Linked DNA regions of Homo sapiens: region 1 is linked to region 2. The links come from fine-mapping of genetic effects on gene expression. A gene starts in region 2. The other region holds a variant in brackets. All regions are shown on one strand. Distances are from middle to middle. Region 1 has its middle 20 kb from the start of LINC02488. Region 2 holds the start of RASA1 (RAS p21 protein activator 1).

The links. PIP is the estimated chance that this variant, and not a neighbour inherited with it, causes the effect. A credible set is the group of variants that fine-mapping cannot tell apart.
Region 1: its variant is the best candidate, but not a certain one, in a credible set for the expression of RASA1 in putamen (GTEx, PIP 0.78).

Annotation. Positions count from the first base shown.
Region 1 is chr5:87,640,645-87,643,555 of GRCh38, forward strand. No RefSeq gene overlaps it. Among named protein-coding and RNA genes, the nearest start is that of LINC02488, 20 kb to the right of the region's middle. The variant T/G (reference allele first, on the strand shown) is at 1,387.
Region 2 is chr5:87,266,792-87,269,702 of GRCh38, forward strand. RASA1 (RAS p21 protein activator 1) reads left to right here and starts at 1,092. Exons shown (of 25, transcript NM_002890.3): 1 at 1,092-2,199. The coding sequence starts at 1,661. RefSeq lists enhancers at 821-1,115, 1,169-2,056, 1,814-1,863 and silencers at 864-1,113, 1,454-1,633.

The DNA.
Region 1 (2,911 bases), 370 kb after region 2:
CATGTTAAGACTTCTTATTTTCCCATATATTTCAAGGATGTTTGCTCTTACTTCCTAGAACATGGTTATACTCACTATTTTAAAGTGTTTGATAGTTCCAATATCTGTATCATTTTGGTGTAGTTACTCTTGTGCCATTTTTCTTATGAGATGTTGAAATGTGTCTGGTGCTTCCTACACCAAGTGATTTTGAATTGTTTCCCGTGCTTTTAAAGTATCATATTTTAAAACTCTTAGTCTTGTTTAAATCCTATATAGAATGTTGATATTTGATTGTTTGTTTTAGCAGGCAATTGATCCAGTTGGGTGCAGACAAGTCCATATCTATCTTTGTATGTTGTGTTCAATTTTTAAAGCCTTTGCAGTGGTATTCCCACATGCACACCACTTAGTGGACAGTCTGGGACCTGGGCTGTAGTCAAGACTACAGTTAAGTTCTGAAAGCTTTTACTGTGCTCTTCAGGGTCATATTCATGCACATGGGGCCCAGGAGTGAGTCATGGCATTCATATGCAACTTTATAGAATTGCTTTTTAAAGTTCCCTCCATCTCTCTCTAACACCTTATAGTTCCCAGAAGCCCTCTCCTTCTGGTTCTCTGGCTAAAAGCTGGTGTTCTTGCTTCTCTGGCTCTGCCATGTACTTTCCATTACCCTGTATACCTACAGGGCAAAATGGTAAAAAGAATAGAAAGAGATAAAAAGGAAAAGCAAGTGGATTCTCCTGTGCTCTTGTGACTACAGGTCCTCTGATCAGAGAGGTTTTCTCTTTGATGAAATTGTAAATATCTTTCAAGTTATCTTTTCTGTTTCTGCTACTGCCACTGTGTGATCTCCTGCGGAGTAGGGTGGTAAGACAAGAGAGAGAAAAAAAAAAATTGAACAACACAGAAAGTTCCTCATTATCTTTGACGAAAAGAGATCCCTCATAACAAAAATAGAGAGCTTCTTTTGAAACACTTTCTGTCTGTACCTTGTATGCAGTATTGGGTTCCGGACTGCATTTGCATTCAGGCCAGGTAATAAAAAATGAAAAAAATCTGTTAACTTACTGCTTGTTTAGTGGTACTATCATTTACTTCTTAGTTCTCAACTGTCCCATATATTCTCTTCTGGGATTTTAGTTGCATTCATTTTGAGAGACAAGTTGAAGTATATTTATTCTATCTTGACAAGAAAAGAACTTTCATTTAAAAAAATTATAATTTTTAAAATTGTGATAAAAAACATAAAATTTACCATCTTAACCATTTTTAAGTGTACACTTCAATAGTGTTAAGAATATTCACATTGTCCTACCACAGATCTCCAGAACTTTTTCAACTTGGAAAACTGAAGCTCTACACCCATTCGACAAAAACTCCCTAAATCTCCCTTCCCACACCCCC[T/G]GGCAATCCTCATTTTACTCTTTTGTTTCCATGAGCTTGACTACATGAGATGTCTCATGTAAGTGGAGTCACACAGTATTTATCTTTTTGTTATGTGTTTATTTCATTTAATGTAATTTATGCAAGGTTCATCCATGTTGTAACATATGATATGGTTTGGCTCTGTGTCTGCACCCAAATCTCATCTTCTGGCTCCCATAATTCCCAAATATTGTGGGATGGACCCTGTGGGAGATAATTGAATCATGGGAGTGGGTCTTTCCCGTGCAGTTCTCGTGATTGTGAATAAGTCTCAAGAGATCTGATGGTTTTAAAAATGGGAGTCTCCCTGCACAAGCTCTCTCTTTATCTGCTGCCATCCACATAACACGTGACTCGCTCCTCCTTGCCTTCTGCCATGGTTGTGAGGCCTCCTCAGCCATGTGGAACTGTAAGTCCATTAAACCTCTTTCTTTTGTAAATTGCCCAGTGCGGGTATGTCTTTTTCAGCAGCATGAAAACAGACTAATACAGCATGTGACAAGATTTTATTCTTTTCTGAAGGCTGAATAATATTCATATATATATATATATATATACATTTTGTTTATCCATTCATCTGTGGAATAATGTGCTATAATCTTGGGTGTGCAAAAATCTCTTGGAGATCTTGCTTTCAATTCTTTGGATATATATGCCAAGAAGTGGAATTGCTAGATCATATGGTAATTCTATTTTTAGTTTTTTGAAGAATTTCCATACCGCTTTTCATAGTGCTGTACCATTTTACGGTCCCAAAACCAGTGCTCAAGGTAGTCTAATCTCTCCACATTTTCGGCAAGATTTGTTTTTTCCTGTTGTTTTGATTGTTGACATCGTAATAGGTAAGAGGTGACATCTCATTATAGTTTTGATTTCATTTTCCTTATGACTAATAAGGTTGAACATCTTTTCATGTGCTTCTTGACGATTTGTATATAATCTTTGGAGAAATGTCTATTCAAGCCCTTTGCCCATTTTAAAATTGTGTTATTATTTCTTCGGTTGTTAAGTTGTAAGTGTTCTTCGTATATTTTGGACATTAAACCCTTATAAGATAAGTGATTTGCAAATATATTCTCCCATTCCAAAGACAGAACCTCCATTTTCTTTTGTCTTCCAGTGTCACTATTGAGAGATGGGCCTTCTAGATCCTTCATATGAAATCTTTCTACTTCCACACTCTGAGAGCTTTTATGATCTTCTCTTTTCCACCAGCAGTACAATATCTCATGGCCATACACTTTGGCATGAGTGTATATAATAATTTGCTCCATTATTATGGGCTCTTTTCCTTTGAAAACTTTTCTCCTTCAATTCTGGGAAAAATACTTGAATTGGTCTGATGATGATTTCTTTCTTTCCATTTTTGGTTTTTGTGTCTTCTCTTATATTAGAATAACAGAAGACACAAAAACCAAAATTGAAAAACTCACTTGAACTTATTTTTGAGATTTACCTTTTATCAGTTAAATTTATATTTATCATGGCTACTAGTTATCTGAGC
Region 2 (2,911 bases):
AAGATCAATATCCAATGGTATTTAATGTGGGATCACTCCTGGGAGAATTTAACAATATTGTTAATTTCAAACCATGGGAAGCTCCCTCTACATGAATGCATAGTTTGTATACATTTTAGTGTAAAAGACAAAATAACACCCTTCTCCTTAATTGTATTAAAAATGAGTTTTCAGTTTATTGCTACTTTTGAAACGATATATAATTATAACTAGCATTCTGGGACATTCTTGACATTTGACTTGTTGAAGGTGCTTGCATTGTGGATCACGTCCTGCAGTCTTTTGCACACAAACCAGGACAAAAGTGCATTGATTAGTGTTTTCTGTGGCACCTCCTCCTCTTCATCAGTATCCAACAGACTTATAATGGCATAGGTAAGTATATGAGACAGTTGATAAAGAAAAACGTATGCAAATACTGGTAGAAATCTTACTTCATAACCACTATTTCTACTCAAATTCTTCACCCTTCTCATATGGTGCCCTTTATTTCGTTTTGGAGTTTCAGAATCTATTTTAACTGTGTGTGTGTGAGATAGTCATAGTGATTTATAGCATGCAACGAAAAAGAAAACATTAATAGTACTGCCCCGATCTTCAAAGCTACCTGACCCCTGCCCGGTTTCTGCGCTGCTGGTTAAGGCTGTTTTTTCCACTGGTCAGGAAGTACGGAACTAGTTTCTGGGCATTTTCCTTTCCCTTTCCCCCTCCTTCCTCTCCACCGCCTCCTGGTCCCCCTCTGGTCTCTCCGGCTTTAACAGCGCCAAGCACCCGCGTGCTCAGGTACCCTTCCCTCTTCTCCCGCCCATCAAACAAAGCCCCGGGAGACAGGCGCGCGCCGCCGGCCACGCCAACAGGAGATGCGGCCGCGCCGCCACACGCTTGGAACCGGAGGAGGACAGCAAGCGCGACCACGCACCGCGCGTCCCCGCCGCTTCCTTCCCTCTGGACTCTTCCTTTTCCTCCCGGCCCGGCCCCCCGCCCCCGCTCCGGGAACGCGCCTGCGCACAAGCTGCCCTCTCCCTTCTCCGCCCTTCCTTCCCTCCGTCCCTCCTCCCCTGCCCCGCCTTCCTTTCTCTCTCTCCCGTTTCACTCACTGAGAGCTCCAGGTAGTGAGCAGTTCAGTCGATTTCCTCGTTACCCCGCCCCCCTTTCTCTTGCCCCCCCACCCCTCTCATCTGCCTGGTGGAGGATGAAGCGGCTGCAGTGGCCCCAGCCTCAGCAGCGGCACCGGCGGTGGCTGCGGTGTGGGTGGCCGGAACTGGGGTGGTGAAGAAGCGGTGGTGGCGGCTGAAGGAGCGGTAGCAGCCTCAGCCTCTTTCCCTGTGCTTCCTTTCCTCTTTAGTGCAGCGAGGAAGTTTTCGCTTCTGTACATGTGTTTGTGTGCGTGAGTGTGGGTGTGTGCGGTGAGGTTTGGGTGGCGTTTGTGCAGGCGTTGGGTTTTTTGCCCACTTGGCTTCCCGTAACCCAGGCAGCTGGGGAGCCTGGGCTGTGGCCCTAGGAGGGGGCGCGGCGGCGGGCTCTCTCCTTTTGTTGTTGTTTCCTCAGCCTGGGGAGCTGAAGGGGAGACGCGTCTGGGTGGGGCTGCTCGGAGCCCGGGCCTGGTGGCCCCTGGGGCTCCCGGGCGGGCAGGGTAGGGCAGAGTAGAGCGGGCTTCAACATGATGGCGGCCGAGGCCGGCAGTGAGGAGGGCGGCCCGGTAACAGCCGGAGCTGGAGGAGGCGGCGCGGCAGCGGGCTCCAGTGCCTATCCCGCAGTGTGTCGGGTGAAGATACCCGCGGCCCTGCCTGTGGCAGCCGCCCCCTATCCTGGGCTGGTGGAGACCGGAGTGGCTGGAACTCTGGGTGGCGGAGCCGCTTTGGGGTCAGAGTTCCTAGGAGCCGGGTCTGTGGCAGGGGCACTGGGGGGAGCTGGACTGACAGGGGGAGGTACTGCTGCTGGCGTAGCTGGTGCTGCTGCTGGCGTGGCCGGTGCTGCTGTTGCTGGACCTAGTGGAGACATGGCTCTCACCAAACTGCCCACTTCGTTGCTTGCTGAGACTCTCGGGCCAGGCGGCGGTTTTCCCCCTCTGCCCCCTCCCCCTTACCTGCCCCCTTTGGGGGCGGGCCTCGGGACAGTGGACGAAGGTGACTCTCTGGATGGACCAGAATACGAGGAGGAAGAGGTGGCCATACCGTTGACCGCTCCTCCAACTAACCAGTAAGTTAAGACTGCTGTTCAGGAATTTGGGAAGCTGGCTCCAGAAAAGAAGTGGAAATGAAGGGGTAAATCATACTTTGTCCTTTTCATCTGTGGTTTGTTAGGAAAAGTTTTTGAAGTTTCAGGTTTCTTGGGTAGGAATTTAATCTGATCACTTATCTTCCTTACAGGCATACTACCTGGCGTCTTCCTACATTTATTGCTCCTCTGGGAAAGTGTAAAGTCTTTAAGATGGAAAGCATGAGAAAATGTGTATCTAATGAGAACCGGATATAGTTCTGTCCCTTCCAAGTTGAGGTGGTGTCCCAGAATTTAGTCAAACTGCGGCTACCAAGGCAGTCATAGTGTATATTAACTTGTGTGTGTTACTTGATAAAGCTAGATGATTAGTGAGAAGCTTTGAATACAGGTGTTTAAACGAGTACTATAGTAATAATTTGAAAAATGTATTGGTTAGAATGTTTTTATTTCAGTGCACAGCCCAGCTTCTGATTAGAGAAAGCATAGTGATGCAGAAGAGTCTTTGGGTCACTTAATGAGAACTTGGGTCAGAGAGAAAGGAAAGGAATCCTGTGTATTATAGGTGTGATTAAGAGCCTATATTCCAACAATGTATCTTCTTCCATAGGCTTGCCACTTAATATTAACGCACTGCTTTTATAGTGGAGACTTTGGAAGTACAACAGTGAGGCAAAACAAAATCAATAGAGCT